2 separate regions of the Homo sapiens genome follow, and region 2 is linked to region 1. The links come from fine-mapping of genetic effects on gene expression. Tissue or cell type: pancreas. Region 1 holds a variant in brackets; the other region holds the start of a gene. All regions are shown on one strand. Distances are between the middles of the regions. Region 1 overlaps SMIM14 (small integral membrane protein 14). Region 2 holds the start of UGDH (UDP-glucose 6-dehydrogenase).

Region 1 (16,427 bases):
AAATTATCTAGTTTCAGCCTTTAATAACTAAATCTTCTCCATATTTCCCATGTCACATTTTTTTCCTATTGTCACATTGCGGCTTCCTTTTTTTTTTTTTTTTTTTTTTTTTTCTTTTTTTGAGATGGAGTTTTGCTCTGTCGCCCAGGCTGGAGTGCAATGGCGCAATCTCGGCTTACTACAACCTCCACCTCCTGGACTCAAGCAGTTCTCCTGCCTCAGCCTCCCAAGTAGCTGGGATTACAAGCGTGTACCAGCATCCCCAGCTAATTTTTGTTTTTTGTTTTTTTTGAGATGGAGTCTCACACTGTCACCAGGCTGGAGTGTAGTGGTACAATCTCAGCTCACTGCAACCTCCACCTCGCAGGTTCAAGCGATTCTCCTGCCTCAGCCTCCCGAGTAGCTGGGACTACAGGTGCACGCCACCACGCCTGGCTAATTTTTGTACTTTTAGTAGAGACAGGGTTTCACCATGTTGGCCAAAATGGTCTCGATCTCTTGACCTCATGATCCGCCTGCCATGGCCTCCCAAAGTGCTGGGATTATAGGCGTGAGCCACCACGCCTGGCCTAATTTTTGTATTTTTAGTAGAGACAGGGTTTCTGTATGTTGCCGAGGCTGGTCTTGAACTCCTGACCTCAGGTGATCCACCCACCTCAGCCTCCCAAAGTGCTGGGATTACAGGCATGAGCCATTGTGCCTGGCTGCATTGCGGCTATCTGCTGTCTTCTTTCTCGGTGCGTCTGTCTGTCCTCCAGACCTCTTAACTTTTATCCTTGGAATGCTCCAGGACTTAGCCCCTGGATTATTTCCTTTTCTAGACATTCACTCACTTGGTGATCTCATCTGGTCTCATGACTCATTACTTGTATGCTGATGACTGTCTTTTGGGCATTTCCACTGGGATGTCTAACAAGGCACCTCAAATTCAACATCTTCAGAATTTCTGCTTCTCTTGAGATCCTTCCTATAACAGTTAATGGCAGTTCTATCCTTCTGAGACTCATCCTTGGCTTCCCTTTTTCTCACACTGTCCAGTCATCTATCAGCAAGCACTATCTTGAAGATACATCCAAAATTCTACCACTTCTCACTATCCCACTGCCTCCTCCCTGTTCTAGGCCATCATCATCTCGTATGTTAATAGATTATTGCAACAGGTTCTTAACTGTCTGTATTAGTCAGTCTTCACACTGCTAATTTAAGACATACCCAAGACAGGGCAATTTACGAAAGAAAAGGGTTTATTGGACTTACAATTCCACATGTCTGGGGAGGCCTCACAATCATGGCGGAAGGTGAAAGGCATGTCTTACATGGTGGCAGTCAAGAGAAGAGAGCTTGTGCAGGGAAACTCCCCTTTTTAAAACCATGAGATCTCGTGAGACTTGTTTACTATCATGAGAAGAGCGCAGGAAAGGCCCGCCCCCCATAATTCAATCACCTCCCACCAGGTTCCTCCCATGACATATGGGAATTGTGGGAGTTACAATTCAAGATGAAATTTGGGATGGGACACAGCCAAACCATATCACTGTGTTTCTGTTTCTCGTTTTTCAAAACACAACAGATGGAGTGGTTCTGTCAAAATGAGAGTCAGATATCATCTGCATTTTGCTCAGAACTCTTCAGTGGTGTCTGGGCACAGTGGATCACACTTGTAATCCCATTTTAGGAGGCCAAAGCAGGCAGATCACTTGGGCTCAGGAGTTCAAGACCAGCATAGGCAACATGTTGAAATCCTGTCTCTACAAAAAATATAAAACTTAGCTAGGCGTGGTGGCCTGTGCCTATGCCCCAGCTACTCTGGATGCTGAGTTAGGAGATCACTTGAGCCTGGGAGGTTGAGGCTGCAGTGACTGTAATTGAGCCACTGCACTCCAACCTGGGTGACAGAGTGAGACCCTGTCCAAAAAAAAGAAAAGCCCTCTTCAGTGGTTTTCTATTTAATATGTAATAGAAGCTTATTATGACCTATAAGGCCAACATGATCTGAATCCTGTTACTCTTTTGATTTAATCTTTTTCTTTTCTTTTCTGGAGACAAAGTCTTACTCTGTTGCCCAGGCTGGAGTAAAGTGGTGCAATCATGGCTTGCTGCAACCTCAACCCCTTGGGCTCAAGCAATCCTCCCACCTCAGCCTCCTGATTAGCTGGGACCACAGGTGTGTGCCACCACACTTGGCTGATTTTGTTTGTTTTTTATTTTGTAGAGATAGGACCTCATTATGTTGCCAAGGCTGGTCTTGAACTCCTGGCCTCAAGTGATTCTCCCACCTCAGCTTCCCAAAGTGCTGGGATTACAGGCGTGAGCCACCACACCCAGCTTAATCTTTTTCTTATATCCCACCTCACTATACCACCAATCCCAGGTCACTTCACTTCAGCCACATTGGCCTCCATGAACATCCCACAGGCTCCTGAATCAGGAGTTCTCGCTGTTCCTTGTGCCTGAAATGTGCTTCTTTCGGATAATCTCACAACTGACAGCCTCACTTTCTTTACATTTTCACTCCAGAGTGCCTTCTTAGTGAGGCTTCCCTTAGCCCCCTGCTTAAAAGTCATGTATTTCATTTTTAATAGAATCCTTTAAACAAAAGAGAGGATGCTTTCCATTCAGGTTATCTTTATCTAAAAAACGCTAATCTGAAATAACACTATGGGGCACCCTCGCAGAACACAATATGAAAGTATAGGTTGAATATCCCTTATTTGAAATGCTTGGAGCCAGAAGTGTATTCAGTTTCAGATTTTTTCAGATTCATTTACCAGTTGACCATCCCTAACCTGAAAATGTGAAATGTTCCGATAAGCATTTCTTTTGAGCATGATGTCAGCTCTCAAAAAGTTTTGGATTTTGGAGGATTCTAGATTTTTAGAGTAGGAATACTCAGCCTGTAGGAGAATAACAGATCTACATTAGGGAATGATAGAGATCACCCTTGACTCAGCTTGAAAACTGGTAGCTGTGCTTAGGATAATGTAATTACTGTATAGGACCAAAAACTACAGGGTTAGAGCATACCGGTGTATTGTCCACTTTCACTGCTGTTCTGTTTTTGCTTTCCCCAGCGGAAACCTATATAAGTTTATACAAATAATCTTCTGAGGATGGGCCAGCTCTTAGAGCCTCTGTCTCTACCTTTTCATCCTCTTGGTATCCAGCTAAGTTAACAGCTTCATTGTGAATATTCCATTTGGCATTTTATTTGTGAGGCAGGGGAATTGCTTGAAACTGGGAGGCGGAGGTTGCAGTGAGCCAAGATGGTGCCACTGCACTCCAGCCTGGTGACAGAGCAAGACTCCGTCTCAAAATAATAATAATAGAAGAAGAAGAAGAAGAGGAAGAGAAGGGGAAGAAGAAGAGGAGGAGGAGGAAGAGGAGAAAGAAAAAAGAAAAAGAAACTTGAGGCTCAGGGATTATATACCTAAGAGGTGGTACAGTCAAACAGCTATGAGATGGTCTCAGTTCTTAAAAAGTTAATTAGGAGAGACGGGAAACCATTCCTTCAAACTAGAAATGCTATACTAGTCCAGAGAAGGCAGAGGAAAAAGTGGGTGGAGGAAATGGAGATTTTTATGGAAGAGGGATGTAGGTTATAGGTGAATAAATGGAGTTAGTTGTAAGAACATGCCAGACAGGGAAATAACGAGTACCCCAGGAAGACTGAATTTGCATAGTTGGCAAATGCTGCCAGACAAGTTCGCATTCAACTGTTGCATCAGATTCATTTGGAAAGCTTTTAAAAAATATTGTTGGCTCCTGATCCCACCCCGAAGCTGCTCCTGAATCAGATGGTCTTAGGCAGTGCCTTAGAATCTGTGGTGTTGATACTGTCACAGGCTATTCTGATGCATAGCCAGGCCAGGGAATCCTTGGCTAGAGAAAGAAGAGGGGCCGGGGGCGGTGGCTCATGCCTGTAATCCCATCACTTTGGGAGGCTGAGGTGAGTGGATCACCTGAGATCAGGAGTTCGAGACCAGCCTGGTCAACATGGTGAAACCCAGTCTCTACTAAAAATACAAAAAATTAGCCGGGTGTGGAGGCGAGCACCTGTAATCCCAGCTACTTGGGAGGCTGAGGCATGAGAATCACTTGAACCCGGGAGGCAGAGGTTGCAGTGAACAGAGATTGTGCCATTGCACTCCAGCCTGGCCAGCAAGAGTGAAACTCCGTCTCAAAAAAAATAAAAAAAAGAAGAGGTATGGGGGTGACTAGAGCAGAGGATGCATTTTCTGAGAAGTGGTAAGAGGTAAGATTAGATGAGTAAGGCCCAATCATATGAGGAAAGGCTGAGCTAAAGAACTTAGAGTTGCTGGGCACAGTAGCTCATGCTTATAATCCTAGCACTTTGCGAGGCTTAGGTGGGTGGGTTGCTTGAGCTCAGGAGTTAGGGACAAGCCTTGGCAACATGGCAAAACACCGTCTCTACTAAAAATACAAAAATTAGGGTCAGGTGGGGTCGCTCATGCCTGTAATTCCAGAACTTTGGGAGGCCAAGGTGGGCAGATCACTTGAGCTCAGGAATTCGAGATCAGCCTGGGCAACATAGTGAGACCCTGTCTCTAAAAAATAAAAAAAGTTTTAAAAATATAAAAAAATTAATTGGGCATGGCAGCATGCGCCTACAATTTCAGCTACTCAGGAGGCTAAGGTGAGAGGATCACTTGAGCCTGGGAGGCAAAGGTTGCAGTGAGCTGTGATTGTGCCACTGCACTCCAGCCTGGGAGACAGAGTGAGACACTGACTCAATAAAAACAGAAAAACCCCAGAGTTGAAACAGTAGGCAGTGGAAACTGAGTTACCACATTGATCAGCAGAGATGTGTTAAGAGCAGAGGGGATTTTTTGTTTGTTTGTTTGTTTGTTTGTTTGGGGGTTGAGACAGGGTCTGTCTCTGCCACCCTGGCTGGAGTGCAGTTGTGTGATTACAATTCACTGCAGCCTTGACCACCTGGGCTTAAGTGATCCTCCCACCTCAGCCTCCCGAGTAGCTGGGATTACAGGCCTGCACCACCACACTCAGCTAATTTTTTAATTTTTTTTGTAGAGACAGGGGTCTCACTATGTTGCCCAGGCTGGTCTCAAACGCCTGGGCTCCAGGGATCCTCCTGCCTCGGCCTCCTAGAGTGCTGAGATCACAGCCATGAGCCACTGTATCCAGCCAAGAACAGTTTTAAGCAGACTTTTCTGGCAGCAGTAAGCAAGAAGGAAAAGCTGCAATAGGAACCAAGCTAGGAGATAGTTAAGGGAACTACGAGTCATATTACTATTGTGAGATTCTAAAAAAGAAGTGGACATTACTATTTGGTTGTTGTTGTTGTTGAGATGGAGTCTCACTATGTTGCCCAGGCTGGAGTGCAGTGGCACGATCTCGGCTCACTGCGACCTGTCTTCCGGGTTCGAGCAATTTTTCCGCTACAACCCCCCAAGTAGCTGGGATTACAGGTGTGCACCACCATGCTTGGCTAATTTTTGTATTTTTAGTAGAGATGGGCTTTGGTAGAGATGGCCAACACCATGTTGGCCAGGCTGGTGTTGAATTCCAGACCTCAGGTGATGCACCTGCCTTACCTTCCCAAAGTGCTGGGACTACAGGTGTGAGCCACCGTGCCCGGCGTGAGATTCTAAAAAAGAATCAGGGATCCTTTGTCTAGAAATAAGAATTAGTAAACTTGGAATCTGAGGTTTAACTCTCTTAAGCTTCAGAATTTTTTACTTGCAAAGAATATTAAAAAGTCATGGCTGGGCATGACTACTGACTGACACCTGTAATCTCAGCTCTTTGGGAAACCAAGGCAGGAGGATTGCATGAGGCCAGAAGTTCAGCACCAGCCATTTTGCCCAGGCTGGTCTTGAGCTCCTGAGCTCAAGGGATCTTCCTGCCTTGGCCTCCCAAAGTGCTGGGATTACAGGCATGAGCCCCATCAGGTCTGGCCTTAACTATTATTTAAAATAAAAATAATAGTATAGGTTGAATATCCCTAATCTGAAAATTTGAAGTGCTCCAAAATCTGAAACTTATTCAGTGCTGACATGATGCTCAAAGGAAATGCTCATTGGAACATTTCAGATTTTGGATTTTAGGATTAGGGCTGCTGAACCAATAAGTATATTGCATATATCCCCAAATCTGAAAAAATCCGAATTCTGAAACACTTGTATTCCCAAGCATTTCACACAGGGAAACTCAACATGTATTTGCTTTTAAAAAAAAAGAAAAAAAAATCACTCTGGAAACAATATAGAGCACAGGGGAAGCAGGAGTAGATATAGGGAGATCCCTTAAGAGGCCACTGCAATAGACCAGATAAGAGGTTATGGTAGCTTGAGCAGGTGGGGACATGGAGCTAAAAGTGGGCAGATACAAGTGATATTTAGGAGGAAAAATTGCAAGAAACTTCATGATGGATTAAATACAGGGCTGTTGAGAAAGAAAAAAGGTGTTTTCTTAGGTTCTGCCCTGGGCAACTGGATGAACAGAGATCCAGTTTGGTAGTTGGGGTGGAAGGGGGTAGGGCGGGGGAGATGCTCATGATTTTTGTTTGGAATACTAAAGTACTGAATATGTTAAGTGGAAGGTGGGATTTCTGCATTTTGTTTTGTTTTGTTTGAGACGGGGTCTTGCTCTGTCGCCAGGCTGGAGTGCAGTGGCGCGATCTCAGCTCACTGCAACCTCTGCTTCACGGGTGATCTCTTGACCTCGTGCTTCCTGGATTTCTGCATTTTTAAGAAGTTTTCAGTTGACTCTGATATATACCATAGTTTAAGAACTATTGATGTTGGCTGATTGCGGTGGCTCATGCCTGTAATCCCAGCATTTTCGGAGGCCAAGGCAGATGGATCACCTGAGGTCAGGAGTTTGAGAACAGCCTGGCCAACATGGTGAAATCCCAGCTCTACTACAAATAAAACCCAGGAGGCAGAGGTTGTAGTGAGCGGAGATCGCGCCACTGCACTCCAGCCTGGTGACAGAACGAGATTCCATCTCAAAAAAAAAAAAAAAAGAAAAGAAAAGAACTGTTGATATAAAGAAAAAGAGAATTATTGATGAAGGAGTGTCCAACTGTTAGACAATGGTAGTGACACAGAAGACAATGGAAGAAAGTGTTTGTTTTTGTTTTTGTTTATGTTTTGAGACAGTGTCTGGCTCTGTTGCCCAGGCTGGAGTGCAGTGGTGCAATTACAGCTCACTGCAACCTCCACCTCCTGGGCTCAAGCCATCCTCCCACCTCAGCCTCCTGAGTAGCTGGGACCGCAGGCACACACCACCACACCCGGCTATTTTTTTTTTTTAATTTTTTGTAGATACGGGTTTTTGTCATGTTGCCCAGGCTGGTCTCAAACTCCTGAGTTCAAGGGATCTGCCCGCCTTGGCCTCTCAAAGTGCTGGGATTACAGACATGAGCTGCCACGCCCGGCCTGTTTAGCTGTTTCTAGGGAAGTGACTGGGTTTGGAACAGAGGCTACATTCCTATCCATCCTGCTCTTAGGCCAGCTCAGCTCTTTTTAATATATATTTTGTACTAATTTGTTTGCCATAAGACTTCGTTGCAGCAGGGCCAGCGCAACTCTTAACTTGACTTTGTCCGCTTTTATCACTAGCCTTTTGGCCTCAGCAGTGCCACCAATTCCTTCCCTTTTGTGGAATTGAGCCCTGGACCCACTGACCCAATGCAGTGTATCAGATTAGTTTCAACATCTTATCTGGATTTCTTTTACTTTTTCCTGAGGCAAGGAGATCAAAACCAAACAGCTGTGGTCTTGACAAGCTGTTTTAGTAATCACCTAGGGATACTACATTTTCCTCTAGAAATCTAATCTATAATTTTTATTTCTTTTTCTTTTCCTTTCTTTTCTTTTTTTTTTTTGACAGGGTCTTGCTCACTCGCCCAGGCTGGAGTGCAGTGGTGTAATCTGAGCTCACTACAACCTCTGCCTTCTGGGTTCAAGCAATTCTCGTGCCTCAGCCTCCTGGGTAGCTGGGACTACAGGCTCACGCCACCCCACCCAGCTAATTTTCGTAGAGATGTTGCAGTCTCACCAATGCACCTTCATATATTGGTTTCTCTTGTGAGGTATCACCCTGAGTTCTTTGTCTCGCCTCTAAAATGATTAAGGAGCATGGTCACAAGGGTGAAGTTGGAGCGAAAATGTAATAAGCAAAAGGAGAAAGCTCTCTGCAGAGAGGGGAGTCCAAGTGGATAGCTTGGTTACAGCTGAATGCAAAATGCTTTTATAAGAAACTGCAGCCAGGCGCGGTGGCTCATGCCTGTAATCCCAGCACTTTGGGAGGCCGAAGCAGGCAGATCACGAGGTCAGGAGTTTGAGACCAGCCTGGCCAACATGGTGAAACCCCATCTCTACTAAAGATACAAAAAGTTAGCCAGGCATGGTGGCATGTGCCTGTAATCCCAGCTACAGGGGAGACTGAGACAGGAGAATTGCTTGAACCCGGGAGGTGGAGGTTGCAGTGAGCTGACATGCCATTGTATTCCAGCTTGGACGACAGGGCAAGACTCTGTCTCAAAAAAACAAACAAAAAAAAGAAACTGCTCT[C/T]CTCCTTGTAACTGATTGAGTAATTTTTCTTTTTCGAAAAGCTGTCTGTGCAACTCCCTTTTTCCAGCTGTGGGATTGTTTCTAAGCACAAAGCACAGCTTCTCTTCTTTGTATAACTGGGTTTTTTTAGGTAAGCCCACTCCGCCCTATGCAAGTTCCCACGGAGCCCACTGTGTATATGCCTGAAAAGGGGAGGAAACTTTTTCCTGGGAGCTCACTGATTGTACAAAGAACAAAAAGGCTTGTTTGCTTTACTGGCTGCTTATCTGTCCAGGCTTATCTGTGCAGCTGCAGCAGCTGTGATTTTTCAGGCAAGCACTTCTAGGGGCCCAGCCTTAACTGTTTACCTAATGGATTTTTCCTTTTCTTCTCCCTCAGAGATGGGGTTTCACCATATCGCCCAGGCTGGTCTCGAATTCCTGAGCTCAAGCAATCCACCCATCTTGGCCTTCCAAAGTGCTGGGATTACAGGCGTGAGCCAGTGCACCTGGCCATTTTTATTTCTGAAAATTGAGTTCTCTAATATACTTCAATAAAAAATCTACGTTTCATTTATTAGAAATTTGTTAACCTCATATCATGGGTCAGGCACTGTGCTAGGCACTTGTTATTTCAAATTAAATAAGACGTGGCTATGTCAAGGAACCAGGAAAAACTGATGCCTGTATACGCACATACATCCCTGTCTAGCATTTTTCTCTTGATAAATAGAAAAAATTGATAGAAGAGAAAAATTGATAAAATTTTAAAATATCTAGATCTGAATTCAACTCCTTTGTGTGAAAAAGAAGGTCAAATTAATCTCTTTGGTTGAGACTGTAATTCAAGGGGTCTTTTAATGTATATATTACGCAGCCCAGATGTCCCCTTTCTTTTTCATGATGCCTCTGTAATTAAGAAGCAGATTTTTCCCCCCAAAGGAGAGTGTTTTTTCTGTGGTCTTAACTTGGATTCATATGGATTCGTGGCTTTGTGGGTTCTTAAACCTTCCACAATTATATACAAAATTGTGGAATTTGGTATACATGAGTGCTTTTCATATTTATTTTTAATCCAGAATGGATCAAAAAGAACAATCATGAAGGATGTAGGTGCCAGACACAGGGCAGAAGGTAGCTAGAAAAGTAGATCTTAGGGAAGTTAGGGCCCCTAGCCTCATTAATCTACAAACATGGCATGGCCGGCTTGCCTTGCAAGACCTCAGTTGAAGACCCCATGAATTCTTAAAATGGAAAGAGTTCTTAATTTTTATCAAATTCTCAAATGATTCTGTTACCCCAAAATATTAAGAATTATTATACTATTAAAAAATGTGTTAGAGACTAGTCCAGGCAACATAGTGAGACGTCGTCACTACTAAAAATTTTAAAAAAAATTAGGGGTGTGGGGCAGGACACAGTGGCTCACACCTGTAATCCCAGCCCTTTGGGAGGCCAAGGCAGGTGGATCACCTGAGGTCAGGAGTTCGAGACCAGCCTGGCCAACATGGTGAAACCCCGTCTCAACTAGAAATACAAAAATTAGCTGGGCATGGTGGCGCATGCCTGTAATCCCAGCTACTCAGGAGGCTGAGGCAGAATTGCTTGAACTTGGGAGGCAGAGGTTGCAGTGAGCCAACATTGTCCCACTGCACTCTGGCCTTGGCAACAGAGTGAGACTCCATCTCAAAAAAAAAAAAAAAAATTGTTAGAGACCAGCCCAGGCAACATAGTGTCTCTACTAAAAATAAAAATTAAAAATTAGGTGCATGGGGCATGGTGGCACACACCTGTAGTCCCAGCTACTCAGGAGGCTGAGGTGAGAGGATCCCATGAACATAGAAGGTTAAGGCTGTAGTGAGCTATGGTTGTGCCACCGCACTCCAGCCTGTTTGATAGAGCAAGACCCTGTCTCAAAAAACAAAAACAACAAAAACTTACTAAGTTTTGGTTTATGACTATTTAACATCATTTACTTTTTAGATGTTCTCACTGGGGGAAAGGGAAATTGAAGATATAATATGTACTTTTGTAATTTATCAATACAATTTTTATATTAATACAGTAATTGAAACTGACATTTAAACATTAGAATTTGTTTTTACTTTTAACAATATTGTGAGCATGCTACATTTTTTGTTTGTCTTTAGTACCGGGACCCTCTGGTGATAATGGCATCAGTGTTACAATGATCTTGGTAGCCTGGATGGTTATTGCATTGATCTTGTTCTTACTGAGACCTCCTAATCTAAGAGGATCCAGCCTACCTGGAAAGCCAACCAGTCCTCATAATGTAAGTGTTGCAGATTTTAAATGCTTTTTGGGTAAGGGAATGTATGTGGCCTGGGGCAGGGAAGGACTTGGTTTTGACTAAAACACCTAAATTAGTTAAATTATATTTAACTCATAGAGTATTCTACCTATGTAGTTCTATTAAATATTGCAATTCCAAGATTTAATTGACAGCTTAATCTTTATGGAGTTAAATGCAGAAAGAAGCACAGACCAGAAGCCCAAAATTAATTTGAAAATGAATTCCAATCCTTTTTTTTTTTTTTCAGACAGGGTCTTGCTGTGCCGCCCAGGCTGGACTGCACTGGTGCGATCTTAGCTCACTGAAGCCTCCACCTCCTAGGCTCCCACCTCAGCCTCCCAAGTAGTTGGGACCACAGGCATGCACTAGCACACCTGGCTAGTTTTTTGTATTTTTTTGTAGAGATGGGGTTTTGCCAGGTTGCCCAGGCTTGAATTCTAATCTTTACTCACATGAGAAGCATCAAAAATAATCCATTTCATAATCCACAGCAATATTGCTCAAGTCTCAATCCTCCACTACCCAGTTCTGTCCACCTCACAGTTGATCCCTTGCCTCTCATGCTTCCAGCCCCTAAACTCTTAGTAGCTTTAGTTGAAATGTTTGACCCCCTTCTGTCCTAGCTATTCAGTAGAGACACTGAGCCTGTCTTATTTTATTTTCCTCATTTTCCCATCCTATTTCTCTCAAACCCATTTTCCATTTCTGTACCACAGTAAATCAGCTGAGCTGGCAAAAGGAGAGGTCGGAATCATTCATGTTGATAAATCTTGATAGTCATGATTACAACCATTTTTAGAACCTTCTAAATTAAAACTATGATAAAGTGACCCAATAGGGAGTTTTCAGGACTATCTTTAAGAGAACCTCTGTTGGCCAGGCACTGTGGCTCACGCCTGCAATCCCAGCACTTTGGGAGGCCAAGGGGGGCGGATCACCTGAGCTCCGGTGTTCAAGACCACCCTGGGCAACATGGTGAAACCCTGTCTCTACTAAAATACAAAAAATTAGCCAGACATGGTGGCATGCGCCTGTAGTCTCAGCTACTCAGGAGGCCGAGGCATGAGAATCGTTTGAGCTCAGGAGGCAGAGGTTGCAGTGAGCCAAGATCACACCACCACACTCCAGCTTGGGCTACAGAGTGAGACTATGTCTCAAAAAAAAAAAGAACCTCTGTTAAAGGATTCCTTTTAATCCTTTTCAGAACCAGTATTTATGTTTTTTTTTTAACACTGAATTTGAATATTATCTCTTTAAAAATATTTCCATGAGGCCGGGCGCGGTGGCTCATGCCTGTAATTCCAGCACTTTGGGAGGCCAAGATGGGCGGATCACCTGAGGTCAGGAGTTCGAGACCAGCCTGGCCAACATGGTGAAACCCTGTCTCTAGTAAAAATACAAAAATTAGCTGGGCCTGGTGGTGGGCACCTGTAATCCCAGCTACTCGGGAGGCTGAGGCAAGAGAATTGCTTGAACCCAGGAGATGGAGGTTGCAGTGAGCCAAGATCGTGCCATTGCACTCCAGGCTAGGCGGTGAGAGTGAAACTTCGTCTCAAAAAAAAAAAAAAAAAAAAAATTCCATGAATTTGCCAGTTACCTCTATTTAGCCATTCTACAAATGTATACATATTTCAAAACATGTTGTATATGACAAATATATACAATTTTTATTTGTCAATTTAAATAAATGTTAAAATTTATAATTAAAAAACTATAAGGTAATAGAGCATCAAAAAAAAAAAAAAAAAAAAAGGAAAATTTCCATGATAGATTTGCTTGTTTTTGTTGTTTTTTTTTTTGAGATGGAGTCTCACTCTGTCCTCCAGGCTGAAGTGCATTGGTACAATCTCAGCTCACTGCAGCCTCTGCCTCCCAGGTTCAAGTGATTCTCCTGCCTCCACCTACCGAGTAGCTGGGATTACAGGTGCACGCCACCACATCTGGCTAATTTTTGGATTTTTAGTAGAGATGGGGTTTCACCATGTTGGCCAGGCTGGTCTCAAATTCCTGACCTCAAGTGATGTGCCTGCCTCGGCCTCCCGAAGTACTGGCATTACAGATGTGTGTCACCACACCTGGCTAATTTTTGTATTTTTAGTAGATACAGGGTTTCGCCACGTTGGCCAGGCTGGTCTTGAACTCCTAACCTCAGGTGCTGTGCCTGCATTTGCCTCCCAAAGTGCTGGTATTACAGGCATGAGCCACCATGCCCGGCCAGATTCACTTGTATACCAAATTATCCCACTAATTCTCTTTTCCAACCTTTACCTTGTGGAATTCCTAAAATAATTGTTTCTTTTCTCCAGTGTTGTGGTGTTGATATCAGAAGTTCAGTTAGACTCATTTTTTATATAAGAGAAAGCAAATGTGCAGTGTTAATTGGTCAATGTTTTGCTTTGTTTTTTAAGGAATAGAACATTTAGATATGTAGCATAGAAAGAAAAAAAATCAAAACGAAAAACATACACAAAAAAGATACGTAGCATGCTAACTTTAAGAAAGAAGGCATTATAGACCAGGCGCGGTGGCTCTCACCTGTAATCCCAGCACTTTGGGAGGCTGAGGCGGGCGGATCACCTGAGGTCAGGAGTTCAAGACCAGCCTAGCCAACATAACCAAACTCCGTCTCTATTAAAAGTACAAAAATTAGCCAGGCATGGTGGCGCGTGCCTGTAATCCCAGCTACTTGTGAGGCTGAGGCAGGAGAATTGCTTGAACCCAGAAGGTGGAGGTTGCAGTGAGCTGAGATGGCGCCATTGCACTCCAGCCTGGGCAACAAGAGCGAGACTCCATCTCAAAAAAAAAAAAAAACCGGCATTATTAGCACTATATAAAAAGCCTTACATTTATTTTTATTTTTTCTTGGAGAAGAGAGTATTTATAAAACAGCTTGCATATTGTCTTGATAAAGTGTTTATTCCTTAGCCTTCTTTCTTACTTTCTTTGTATAGCTTTGTTACTTTCATATCAAAGAGTAAATTCCTCAATGTTTGGAGCTAAAGAAATAGAACTCTTAATAACCTGACTTAGAAATCATTACAGTGGGCTGGGCACGGTGGCTTACACCTGTAATCCCAGCACTTTGGGAGGCTGAGGCAGGTGGATCATTTGAGGTCAGGAGTTGGAGACCAGCTTGACCAACATGGTGAAACCCTGTCTCTACTAAAAATACAAAAAAATTAACCAGGTGTGGTGGCACATGCTTGTAATCCCAGCTACTCGGGAGGCTGAGGCAGGCGAATCACTTGAACCCGGGAGGCGGAGTTTGCAGTGAGCCGAGATCTCACCACTGTACTCCAGCCTGGGCGACAGAGTGAGACTCTGTCTCAAGGAAAAAAAAAAAAAAACTATTAAAATGACAGAAATGCAAGATTACCCTCTCCTGGACCTTAATTCATTGTAGGCCAGTGTTTCTAGGAATAGTAGTTCCACTATCTTAGGAATAAGTAAGAAAATGTGTTGAGACTAATTCCAAGGAGAAATATTGATCACCCCCAACTCGGGCGTCATGTATCATTTCAGGGTAAATAAATAAAATCTTGAGAATCTTAAAAACTCTGATCTTTCCTTTACAGTTCACTTGCTTTCTATTGCAAGTTAACAAAAGTCAATTCCAAGTGGTTTAAAACAAGTGGCTTCATTGATTTACACGTCAAAAAAATTCAGAGGTAGGGTCAGTGTTAAGAAAGTTTCAACAGTGTCATCAAAGACCTAGTTTCTTTCCTCATACTAACAACTTCATTCCAAGATGGGCTCCCCTTAGGGTTATAGGATGACTACCAGAAGCAACTGCAGCCACATGCATCCTCGTAGACATTCAGTATTGAGAAACAAAAGTCCCTAGCTTCATTTTAAATATACAGTACTTTGCTTAGCCAATCGACTTTAGCAAGAGGGATGAAGATATTTTCATAGGTTTGAAGATCACTCCTGGGGTTGGCAGGAGTGATAACATCACTGTTGTACAAATTCCCTCTCTCTTCCATTCTACAGGGAAAAATGAGACAAATGGTGGAAAATCACAGTGTTATTTAATCTAGTGTTCCCTCATGTAAAAACATATGAAAAGTCCAAATAAGCATATATTTGGGATGGGATGGTTGGGGGCATTGCTGCTCAGTTGTTTCTCTATGTGTTAGATTGGTTGCACTGGGATTTAATAAGTCAATTTTTAAAAAAGTAATAAATTTTAAATTTTTTTGAATTTTTAAAAAGTCAATTAAATAATTTATTTCTTTCTAATGCCAGGGACAAGATCCACCAGCTCCTCCTGTGGACTAACTTTGTGATATGGGAAGTGAAAATAGTTAACACCTTGCACGACCAAACGAACGAAGATGACCAGAGTACTCTTAACCCCATTAGAACTGTTTTTCCTTTTGTATCTGCAATATGGGATGGTATTGTTTTCATGAGCTTCTAGAAATTTCACTTGCAAGTTTATTTTTGCTTCCTGTGTTACTGCCATTCCTATTTACAGTATATTTGAGTGAATGATTATATTTTTAAAAAGTTACATGGGGCTTTTTTGGTTGTCCTAAACTTACAAACATTCCACTCATTCTGTTTGTAACTGTGATTATAATTTTTGTGATAATTTCTGGCCTGATTGAAGGAAATTTGAGAGGTCTGCATTTATATATTTTAAATAGATTTGATAGGTTTTTAAATTGCTTTTTTTCATAAGGTATTTATAAAGTTATTTGGGGTTGTCTGGGATTGTGTGAAAGAAAATTAGAACCACGCTGTATTTACATTTACCTTGGTAGTTTATTTGTGGATGGCAGTTTTCTGTAGTTTTGGGGACTGTGGTAGCTCTTGGATTGTTTTGCAAATTACAGCTGAAATCTGTGTCATGGATTAAACTGGCTTATGTGGCTAGAATAGGAAGAGAGAAAAAATGAAATGGTTGTTTACTAATTTTATACTCCCATTAAAAATCTCTAATGTTAAGAAAACCTTAAATAAACATGATTGATCAATATGGCAGATGATTTACAGTCCATTATATGACATTTGTAAGCCACTCAACACTAGCCTTACAAGGTTCATGAAAGGAGGAAAACATTAATTCTTTCTGCCTTTGCTGATATAATCCACATAGTAATAATTTAAGCTATAATTTATTTTTAAAATGAGTGCCTCTTGGGAAGCTTCTTTTCTGTTCTAACAGTTCCCTGTTAAAATGAAAATCTTAGGCCAGTGCAGTGGCTCACACCTGTAATCCCAGCACTTTGGGAGGCTGAGGTGGGTGGATCACTTGAGGTCAGGAGTTCGAGACCAGCCTGGCCAACATGGTGAAACCCTGTCTCTACTAAAAATACAGAAAAATTAGCCAGGGTTGGTGCATGTGCCTGTAATCCCAGCTACTCAGGAGGCCAAAGCAGGAGAATTGCTTGAACCCGGGAGGTGGAGGTTGCAGTGAACCAAGATCGCACCACTGCATTCCAGCCTAAGCAATAGAGCGAGACTCCCTCTCAAAAAAAAAAAAAGAAGAAAATCTTAAAGCTGTATTAGGGCCTGTTAGGTTACTGATATTTGAATGCCTATTTACTTATTTACTACATTGAGTCTTTT
Region 2 (11,102 bases), 30 kb after region 1:
AGTATAGATGGGGTTTCACCATGTTGGCCAGGCTGGTCTCAAACTCCTGATCGCAAGTGATCTCCCCCTTGGCCTCCCAAAGTGCTGGGATTACAGGCATGAGCAACCGCATCCAGCCCACATGATTGAATTACCAGGTCCCTCCCAAGACACATGGGTTATGGGAGCTACAAGATAAGACTTGGGTGGGGACACAGAACCCAACCGTATCCTTCCACCCCTGGCCCCTCCCAAATCTCATGTCCTCACATTTCAAAACCAATCATGCCTTCCCAATAGTCCTCCGAAGTCTTAACTCATTTCAGCATTAACTCAAAAGTCCGCAGTCCAAAGTCTCATCTGAGACAAGGCAAATCCCTTCTGCCTATGAGCCTGTAAAATCAAAAGCAAGTTATTTACTTCCTAGATAGAATGGTGGTATAAGCATTGGGTAAATATAGCCATTCCAAATGGGAGAAATTGGCCAAAACAAAGGGGCTACAGGACCCATGCAAGTCTGAAATCCAGCAGGGCAGTCAAATCTTAAAGCTTCAAAATGATATCCTTTGACTCCATGTCTCACATCCAGGTCACACTGATGCAAGAGGTGGATTCCCATGGTCTTGGGCAGCTCCACTTCTGTGGCTTTGCAGGGTAAAGCCTCCCTCCAGGCTGCTTTCATAGGCTGGCATTGAGTGTCTGCAGCTTTTCCAGGCACACGGTGCAAGCTGTCGGTGGATCTACCATTCTGGGGTCTGGAGAACGGTGGTCCACTTCTCACAGCTCCATCAGGCAGGGCCGCAGCGGGGACTCTGTGTGGGGGCTCCGACCCCACATTTCCCTTCTGCACTGCTCTAGCAGAGGTTCTCCATGAAGGCCCCACCCCTACAGCAAACTTCTGCCTGGGCATCCAGGAATTTCCATATATCTTCTGAAATCTAGATGGAGGTTCCCAAACCCCAATTCTTGACTTCTATGTACTCGCAGGCTCAACACCACATGGAAGCTGCCAAGATTTGGGACTTCCACCCCATGAAGCAGCAGCCCGAGCTCTATGTTGGCCCCTTTCAGTCACCACTGGAGGAGCTGAGACGCACGGCACCAAGTCCCTAGGCTGCACATAGCATGGGGACCCTGGGTGCTGCCCACAAAACCACTTTTTCCTCCTAGGCCTCTGGACCTGTTGATGGGAGGGGCTGCCATGAAGACCTCTGACATGTCTGGGAGATATTTTCCCCATTGTCTTGGATATTAACATTCGGCTCCTTGGTACTTATGCAAATTTTTGCAGCCAGCTTGAATTTCCTCTCAGAAAATGGGATTTTCTTTACTATCACATTGTCAGGCTGCAAATTTCCCAAACTTTTATGCTCTGCTTCCCTTATAAAACTGAATGCCTTTTTTTTTTTCTTTTTTTTTGAGACAGAGTCTCAGTCTGTTGCCCAGGCTGGAGTCAGTGGCATGATCTTGGCTCAATGGAACCTCCACCTCCCGGGTCCAGGCGATTCTCCTGCCTCAGCCTCCCGAGAAGCTGGGACTACAGGCGCACACCACCATGCCAAGCTAATTTTTGTATTTCCAGTAGAGACAGGGTTTCACCATATTGGCCAGGCTGGTCTTGAACTCCTGACCTCTTGATCCACCCTCCTCGGCCTCCCAAAGTGCTGGGATTATAGGTGTGCACCACCGCACCCAGTCAAAACAGAATGCCTTTAACAACACCCAAGCCACCTCTTGAATGCTTTGCTGCTTAGAAATGTCTTCCACTGGCCAACATAGTGAAACCGTCTCTACTAAAAATACAAAAAATTAGAAGGGCGTGGTGGCGGACGCCTGTAATCCCAGCTACTCGGGAGGCTGAGACAGAATTGCTTGAACCCAGTAAGCTGAGATCAGACCATTGCACTCCACCCCAGGCGACAATGCAAGACTCCGTCACAAAAAAAAAAAAAGAAATGTCTTCCACCAGATACCCTAAATCATCTCCCTCAAGTTCAAAGTTCCACAAATCTCTCGGGCAGGGGCAAAATGTCACCAGTCTCTTTGCTAAAACATAACAAGAGTCACCTTTGCTCCAGTTCCCAACAAGTTCCTCATCTCCATCTGAGACCACCTCAGACTGGATCTTATTGTTCGTATCACTATTAGCATTTTTGTCAATGCCATTCAACAAGTCTCTAGGAAGTTCCAAACTTTCCTACATTTTCCTGTCTTCTTCTGAGCCCTCCAAACTGTTCCAATGTTTGCCTGCTACCCAGTTCCAAAGTCACTTTCACATTTTCAGGTATCTTTTCAGCAACACCCCACTCTACTGGTACCAATTTACTGTATTAGTCCATTTCCATGCTGCTGATAGACATACCCAAGACTGGGCAATTTACAAAAGAAAGAGGTTTATTTGGACTTACAGTTCCACGTGGCTGGGGAAAGACTCACAATCATAGGGCAAGGAAGAGCAAGTCACATCTTACATGGATGGCAGCAGGCAAAGAGAGAGAGCTTATGCAGAGGAACTCCTTTTTTTTTTTTTTGGAGACAGAGTCTTCAATTTTGCCCAGGCTGGAGTGCAGCGGTGCAATCTCGGCTCACTGCAACCTCCTTCTCCCAGGTTCAAGCAATTCACTCTGCCTCAGCCTCCCTAGTAGTTTGGATTACAGGTGCCCACCACCATGCCCAGCCAGAACTCTTTTAAAAACCATCAGATCTCATGAGACTTATTCACTATCACAAGAACAGCACAGGAAAGACTTGCCCCCATGATTCAATTACCTCCCACTGGGTTTTAAGATGAGATGTGGGTGGGGACACAGCCAAACCATATCACAGCTACTGTGAAAGCAGAGTTGGAGGGTCACTTCAGCCTGGGAGGTTGAGGCTGCAGTGAGACGTGTTCATGCCAATGCATTCCAGCCTGGGTGACAAAGTGAGACCCTGTAAAAAAAAAAAAAAGAAAGGAAAGAAAGGCTTATGTTTTACCCAAACAATACCTTACTATGACTGGCTCTGTGTCCCCACCCAAATCTCATCTTGTAGGTCCCATAATTCCTACATGTTGTGAGAGGGACCCGGCAGATGATAATTGAATCATGGGGGCAGGTCTTTCCCGTGCTGTTCTTGTGATAGTGAATAAGTCTCATGAGATCTGATGGTTTTAAAAATGAGAGTTTCCCTGCACAAGTTCTCTCTTCTCTTGTCTGCTGCCATGTGAGACATGACTTTCACCTTCCACCATGATTATGAGGCTTCCCCAGCCATGTGGAACTGTAAGTCCAATAAACCTCTTTCTTTTGTAAATTTCCTAGTCTTGGGTATGTCTTTATCAGCAGCATGAAAAAGAACTAACACAGTAAATTGGTACCAGTAGAGTGAGGCACTGCTAAAAAGATATCCAAAAATATGGAAGCAACTTTGGAACTGGGTTAACAGCCAGATGTTGGAACAGTCTGGAGGGCTCAGAAGAAGACAGGAAAATGCAGGAAAGTTTAGAACTCCCTAGAGGCTTGTTAAATGGCTTTGACAAAAATGCTGATAATTATATGGACAATGAAATCCAATCAGGTGGTCTCAGATGGAGATGAGGAACTTGTTGGGAACTGGAGCAAAGGTGACTTTTGTTATGTTTTAGCAAAGAGGCTGGCGGCACTTTGCCCCTGCCATAGAGATTTGTGAAACTTTGAACTGGAGAGAGATGATTTAGGGTATCTGACAGAAGAAATTTCTAAGCAGCAAAGCATTCAAGAGGTGACTTGGGTGCTGTTAAAGGCATTCAGTTTTTAAGGGAAACAGAACATAAAAGTTTGGAAAATTTGCAGCCTGACAACATGACAGAAAAGAAAATCTCATTTTCTGAGGAGAAATTCAAGCTAGCTGTAGAAATTTGCATAAGTAAGGAAGATCCGAATGTTAATCACCAAGACAATGGGGAAAACGGGCATGTCAGAGATCTTCATGGCAGCTCCTCCCATCACAGGCCTGGAGGTTTAGGAAGAAAAAATGGTTTTGTGGGCCGGGCCCAGGATCCCTCTGCTGTGTGCAGTCTAGGAACTTGGTGCCTTGTGTCCCAGCTGCCCCAGCTGTAACTAAAAGGGGCTGAGGCATAGCTTGGGCTATTGCTTCAGAGGGTGGAAGCCCCAAGCCTTGGCAGCTTCCACTTGGTGTTGAGCCTGTAGGTACACAGTAGTCAAGAATTGAAGTTTGAGAGTCTCCACCTAATTGATACAAAAAGCAGATAAACAGGCCAGGCATGATGGCTCATGCCTGTAATCCCAGCACTTTGGGAAGCCAAGGCAGGTGGATCACCTGAAGTCAGGAGTTTGAGACCAGCCCGGCCAACATGGCAAAACCCTGTCTCTACTAAAAACACAAAAATTAGCGTGATGTGGTGGTGCGCACCTGTAGTCCCAGCTATTTGGGAGGCCTAAGCAGGAGAATCTTTTGAACCTGGGAGGTGGAGGTTGCAGTGAGCTAAGATTGCACCACTGCATTCCAGCCTGGATGACAGAGCGAGACTCCGTCTCAAGAAAAAAAAAACAAAAAGCAAAAAACAAAAAACCAGATAAACAGAGAAAAATTGAACTGCCATTAGAGAAGACGGGGAGATGTGGGAACCCAGAGCCTTGTCTTTAACTTCCTACTGATTCTCTATCCTCACAGATTTCTGACACACTACCAGAGGATTCAGGGCTCCATGAAACATAATTTGAAAATAACTAGCCTACCTTGGCAGTTCTCAAAGTTTGTAGTATCAAGACCCCTTGGCATGTTTAAAAATTGAAGACTCAAAGAAGTTTTTTTCATGTGGATTGTAACTATTGGTATTTACCATATTAGAAATGAAAACTGATAAATTATATATAAAAGATTAATTCCTTAAAATTGACAATAAGCCCATTACATGTTAACATAAATATCATATTTTAATGAAAAATTACTATATTTTAAAAACAAAAGATAAGATTGGCATTGTTTTACATTTTTGTAAATCTCTAATATCTGACTTAAAAAACAGCTTAATTCTATTTGCTTTGATAGCACATTATAGTCTCCACAAAACTTCATTGTACACTTCTGAGAGAACAAGAGTGAAAAAAGCAAGTAACACATGAAAACTTTTTGACCTCATGGATCCCAGAAAGAACCTCGGAGATTGTCTACAGTCCCCAGCTCACATTTGGAGAACCTCTGTCCTAAATCCAAAGGTCCATTCTAGCTGGCACTGAAAATTGACTTAATTTCTGAAATCCTATTAACCGTTTTGAAGAGTCTGATTCTACCAAAATACTAAAAAAGAATGTGAGGTGAATACTAAATAGAAAAATGTTGAATTCAAAATGAAGGGACTAAGATAAGTGGTTTTTATTACAAAGCAAACTGTATTAGATAACTTAAATCTATGTATGTTCAAAAAGATGTACTTGTCATATCTAGTGCAATTACTTGTTTACATATCTCTTCTACCCAACCTGTGAGCTTTGCAAGAAGGAAATGAGTCTTTTTTGTTTGGTTATTTTTCTGAGACAGTGTCTCGTTCTGTTCCCCAGGCTGCAGGGCAGTGGTGTGATCTCGGCTCACTGCAACAGGGAGCCTCCTGAGCAGCTGGGATTACAGGTGCCCACCGCCTCACCCGGCTAACTTTTTGTATTTTTAGTGGAGCCGGGGTTTCACCATGTTGGCCAGGCTGGTCTGGAACTCCTGACCTCAGGTGATCCGCCCGCTATGGCCTCCCAAAGTGCTGGGATTACAGGCGTAAACCACCGTGCCTGGCCAAAGGAATTGAGTCTTAATCCCTTTTGCATCTTCAGTCTTTAGGATAACGTCTGACACACAACAGGCATTAAATATTTGTTGGATGAATGAACTGAACTGCATAGAATGCAGAAAGCCTACATATACTGGCCAGGCACAGTGGCTCACACCTGTAATCCCAGCACTTTGGGAGGCCGAGACGGGCGGATCACCTGAGGTCAGGAGTTTGAGACCAGCCTGGTCAACATAGCAAAACCCGGTCTCTATTAAAAATATAAAAATTAGCCGGGCATGGTTGTGGGCGCCTGTAATCCCAGCTACTCGGGAGGCTGAGGCAGGAGAATCGTTTGAATCTGGAAGGAGGAGGTTGAGGTGAGCCGAGATCGCACCACTGCACTCCAGCCTCGGCGACAAGAGGGAGACTCCGTCTCAAAACAACCAACCAACAAGCCTACATATCCTGCCACACGTGCTACAATCCACAGCAAACTGTTTCATCCACATTCAACCACTTTCTTAAAGTCACCATCATGATCCTATCAAGAAAACCGTAATTTATATGGTATTTTAATGTGCCTTTATAAATTACTAATCACTTTCTTCATGATGTATGTTAAAATGGCTTATGTCACCTGATGTAATCCTTAATGAGGGAAATAAAAGGCCATGATTATGCCTGGCTTTTTTTCTTATATGTTAGATTTGAGTGTTAAAATGACCTCGAAGCGGCGAAAGAAAGGAACGGAACTGCCCTCCACATTAAAAATGAGCAGGCTCCATAGGTTAATTTTACTCTTCCTCACGCACGGCACTTACATGTTGCAAACTCTCTGCTCCACAGCACGCACAGACATCCCAAATCCCGGATTGGGCCTGAGGAACATCTCTGCAAAGAGCGCCAGGAGGGCGTGGGGGTCCCGCCTCTCTCGCCAGGGACCAGGGAGTGGACACTCACTGGTCCAGTCATGAGGAACTCAGCATCCTCCTGACGGGAGGCGCCTCTTTCCCAGAAGCGGTGGGTCAGGAGGAATCTGACTAAACCCTGGGTTGCCGGCCCGGAGGGCGCGGTTGACCCCGGGGCCTCGAGGTTGTGGGCGAGGAGTAATCCGCCCGCCGAGACCGACCCGCAGATCCAGGAGACCGAAACCCGAGGGCGGCGCTCCAGGGTGCTGAGGAGACCGGAAAGGCGGCCAGGACCTTCCGGTCGCCTCGGCCCACCACCCACCCAGTGTCCGCGCAGCCCTAAAGCCTGGCAGACGCGGAGCGCACGCGGCCTTTGCCTCGGCCAGGACAGGGCAGCGGGGAGAGGGCTGCTAGACAACAATTCTTGACCCCTCCTCGACCCACGACCGCCAGGTAGGCGCGCAAAGCTCCTACACCTGCGGCGCGCCCCCGTCCCCTGGTCCAGCGGACACGCCACGCACGCAGCCCCGCCCAGCGCCGCTCGCGGTAGGGGCGGAGCCGCTGAGCTGGCCAAAGCGGATTTGCCCAGCTAGGCCAGGGGCGGGGCAGGCCCTCCCAGCCAGGACCAGCCCCAGTCTCCCCGCCCCTGAGCCGTGAAGGAAATAGGGACCTGGCCCTGGGCCTTGTGTAGCGGGAGGGGGAGCTAGGAAGCAGCTGAGGGCAGAATCCAGGAGGGCCTGGCTGCGGGGGAATGAAGCCTCCGCCTTCGCAGGCAAAAGCCTTTAAATACGGGCTCAGGCCCGGGACTCAGAGTGTAACGCGTGGCAGCCTGAGGGAGGGGCGTGCGCCGAGAGGGAGCTCAGATCGAGCGGGGCGCGGGTGGAGAAGCTGCGGCGGCGCGGCCCGTAGGAAGGTGCTGTCCGAACGATCGGGATAGGAGCGGTCCCTGCGCTTGCTGCTGGGAAGTGGGTAAGCGCCGCTCCCAGGCTGGCCCCGCCGCCCGGGCGGGATGCTCCCAGGTCTGGGCGGGATGTGGAGGGAGCGGGGCTGGGGTGTGCGCGCTGCTCCCGGTCGCTCGCTGCGCTGGGTCCCGGGCTTCCCGTCTCACGACCTTCGTCTCTTTGGGGCTTAGGGCGGGAACCGCATTTTGGAACTGCTGTCCTGGGGATGTGGTCGTCTGGGCTTCTTATTCAAGACTCGTGAGTCTTCCAGCCCCTTCTCTTTCTGCCTTTACCCACTTTCCTGACTTGGATGAGATTTCCCTGCCGCCTCCAAAGCCGAACGCCCACCACAGGAAGCGGTTCTCTCGTTGGGGACCTCATTTTGGCCGCAGAGTCGTAGTCTTTTGTTTGTGTTTAAGAGTCTGCTCACCTGAGGGGCTCCTGCTTTTCTCATGCCGCCCCTCTTAAGAAACCAAAGAGAAACGAAGCCAGAAAGCCCTCTTGAGAGCAAAATACTAAGACTGCCGTGATATCTGTCCGGGATGTCCTGGAATCCATTGTTGGCCCCCTACACCACAGAATTGCTCTGTTTGATGTCGGGGAAGGCCTTTCCTGGGTGCCTCGGGAGACCATGTTTGTGTGAGATCTTGAAAAATTATACGTCCTATAAATATATAGGAAGATAACTTAGTAGGGTTAGGAATTCTAGTATAGAGAAAAGAGGGGTTCGCTGGTAGGGATCTATTCATGGGCATACAGAGCAGTAGCTGTCTATCGACAGACCTCAAAGACACAGTGAGCCTTTGAGTTTCTTCAAATCCCTTAAGAAATGGAGAACAGTAGTCTTTCTTCAGGGGGGTTCTGGAAATGAAAGAGCTGACTGTCTGCTCTGAGATGTGCTTATTAGTGGCCAGGATCCAGTTTAAGGTAAGGGGTAGACAACCCTGATTGAAAAGATCTCATTTCTTCTCCCGTTGCTGTACTCCTTTTTCTAACAAAATCTATAACTGGATAAGCATAATCCATCTTCCTTCTTGTTTACTTCCACAGCTTTACATGATAACCCTTAGACATAAAATTAATACCGGCTTTCTTACTGATTAAATATTTTTCTCTGGTCAGGCATCTTTTACTGTTTAATTTCTGGAAATGATTAAAATGTGTGAAGCTGATGTATCCAACTATAATGCCCATCGTTAGCTCCTGGGTACCTATGCAAAATATGCTGTAGAGAGCTGGGGCTAGAAGGATTATATTCCGTTTAGATTGTAGTAGGGCATTTGTTATTTGTTAGTGACCCCTTCTGGGTTGGAATGTTTATTTGAATTTATGAAATTTTACATGAAGAGTAGTTTTGGAACGGTTTGGTTTGTTGTGACTCTCCCAAAATACAGAGGTAAAAACTCATTTCAAAATAACCCATTTAATAAGGAAACACTCCTATGTCTCTGACAGCAGAATAGAGGGCCAGAGGGTACATAAAAGTAGAAATAGAAAATGGGGGCCGGGCGTGGTGGCTCACGCCTGTAATCCCAGCACTTTGGGAGGCCGAGACGGGCGGATCACGAGGTCAGGAGATCGAGACCATCCTGGCTAACATGGTGAAATCCCGTCTCTACTAAAAATACAAAAAAAAATTAGCCGGGCGTAGTGGCGGGCGCCTGTAGTCCCAGCTACTCGGGAGGCTGAGGCAGGAGAATGGCATGAACCTGGGAGGCAGAGCTTTCAGTGAGCCGAGATTGCGCCACTGCACTCCAACCTGGGCAACTGAGCGAGACTACGTCTCAAAAAAAAAAAAGAAAAAGAAAAGAAAATGGGGCTGGGCGCAGTGGCTCACGCCTGTAATCCCAGCACTTTGGGAGGCCAAGGTGGATGGATCACCTGAGGTCAGGAGTTCGAGACCAGCCTGACCAATATGGTGAAACCCCGTCTCTACTAAATATATAAAAACTAGCTGGGCGTGGTGGTGGGCACCTGTAATCCCAGCTACTCGGGAGGCTGAGGCAGGAGAATTGCTTGAACCCAGGAGACGGAGGTTGCAGTGAGCCGACATGGTGCCACTGCACTCCAGCCTCGGTGACAGTGAGACTCCGTCTCAAAAAGAAAAAAGAAATAGAAAATGGAGTTGGCAGACATCTGTGTCATGCAAAGTGTGTCACTAACACTATGTCAAACTCCATGTTAAAGCTTATTGAAGATTTTATTGAAACTTCCAAGTGAGCATTTATTTGGACTTGCACAGATTGTACATCAGCCTTTTCATTGATTCTCCCATTGTCATCGGTAAGCCGTATTTCATGGGAAATAGCAAGGCGAGAATACCCAAAATAAAGCTTGTGTAAAACACATCCAGTTCTGTGATACAAGTTCACCTGCCATCAGTAGTCTATCCCAGCTGATGTATGTAAAGCAAGTTGAAATGTGGTCTCACAATCAAGGCAGATAAGAAGTAACTCTGGGGAAACATGCTGAAGTTCTTTAGGTAACTCAAAAAAAGAACTTGGCCAGATGCGATGGCTCACACCTGTAATCCCAACACTTTGGGAGGCTGAGGCAGGTGGATCAACTGAGGTCAGGAGCTTGAGACCAGCCTGGCCCACATGGTGAAAACCTGTCTCTAGAAAAAATACAAACATTAGCTGGACATGGTGGCGGACACCTGTAGTCCCAGGTACTTGGTACTTGGGAGGCTAGGTGGGAGACTCACTTGAACCTGGGAGGCGGAGGCTGCGGTGAGCCCAGATTGTGCTGTTGCACTCCAGCCTGGGCAACAGAGTGAGACCTTGTGTCAGAAAAAAAAAAAAAAAGTTGATAGTATTCTGGTCAATTACTGCAAAAATACTATGATCGGCAATCTGAACTAAAGCTATTTACACAGAAGTCTTCATCTCAAAAAGAGACGCCCTTGTGGAGAGTTACTCATTCATTCAATTAATAATCATTGAGAGGCTGCTATTCTAGGAGTCAAGGATACAGCAGGGAGCAGCAGCAAATAACTGTTAGCCTGGCTGTGCCTTATTAAACTATGAACTCCTTAAGCCCAGGAGCTGCAACGAGTAGACACTGATTCTACATTTAATAAATGTGTTAGCAGAACCTGTCCTGGTTGAGATTAAGAGTAAAGGCTGCCCTAATAACCTTTTGGCTAGGAGATTAAGTGGTAACCCTAAAAGATCCTCTGGTCCAACATTACTTTGAGATTCTACTCTTTAGGTATTCTAGATATACTGGGTTTAATTAAGTGAAAAAAGCCAGGTGTTAATAGTATATATGGTATTCTATTGAATTTAGAAAGACAAGATTATTAGAATATATATGTATATTTACTTGTAGCTGGGAGGATATACAAGAAAACGGATTGCTTGTGTGGAAGCAAAGTAGGGGATAGCAAAGTAGATAAGGAAGGGGTTGGAGTGAGACTTCTCATGTGTACCTTGTTACAACAGATTTAATTTTGAACCATATGAACATTATTCAGAATCAATAATTTTTTTTTTTTTTTTTGAGATGGAGTTTCGTGCTTGTTGCCCAGGC

What was found.
Region 2: it holds the start of UGDH, and the variant in region 1 is fine-mapped to the expression of UGDH in pancreas (GTEx, PIP 0.90).

What each region holds. Positions count from the first base shown.
Region 1 is chr4:39,550,830-39,567,256 of GRCh38, reverse strand. SMIM14 (small integral membrane protein 14) reads left to right here. Exons shown (of 5, transcript NM_174921.3): 4 at 10,687-10,829; 5 at 15,099-16,427. The coding sequence ends at 15,131. All of the region lies in intron 2 of UGDH-AS1 (UGDH antisense RNA 1), which reads right to left. Among named protein-coding and RNA genes, the nearest start is that of UGDH-AS1, 31 kb to the right of the region's middle. The variant C/T (reference allele first, on the strand shown) is at 8,559.
Region 2 is chr4:39,523,777-39,534,878 of GRCh38, reverse strand. It overlaps UGDH (UDP-glucose 6-dehydrogenase), which reads left to right and starts at 7,440. Exons shown (of 12, transcript NM_003359.4): 1 at 7,440-7,596. UGDH-AS1 (UGDH antisense RNA 1) reads right to left here and starts at 7,040. Exons shown (of 5, transcript NR_047679.1): 1 at 6,541-7,040; 2 at 2,749-2,910. RefSeq lists an enhancer at 6,556-6,615 and silencers at 6,996-7,295, 7,546-7,725.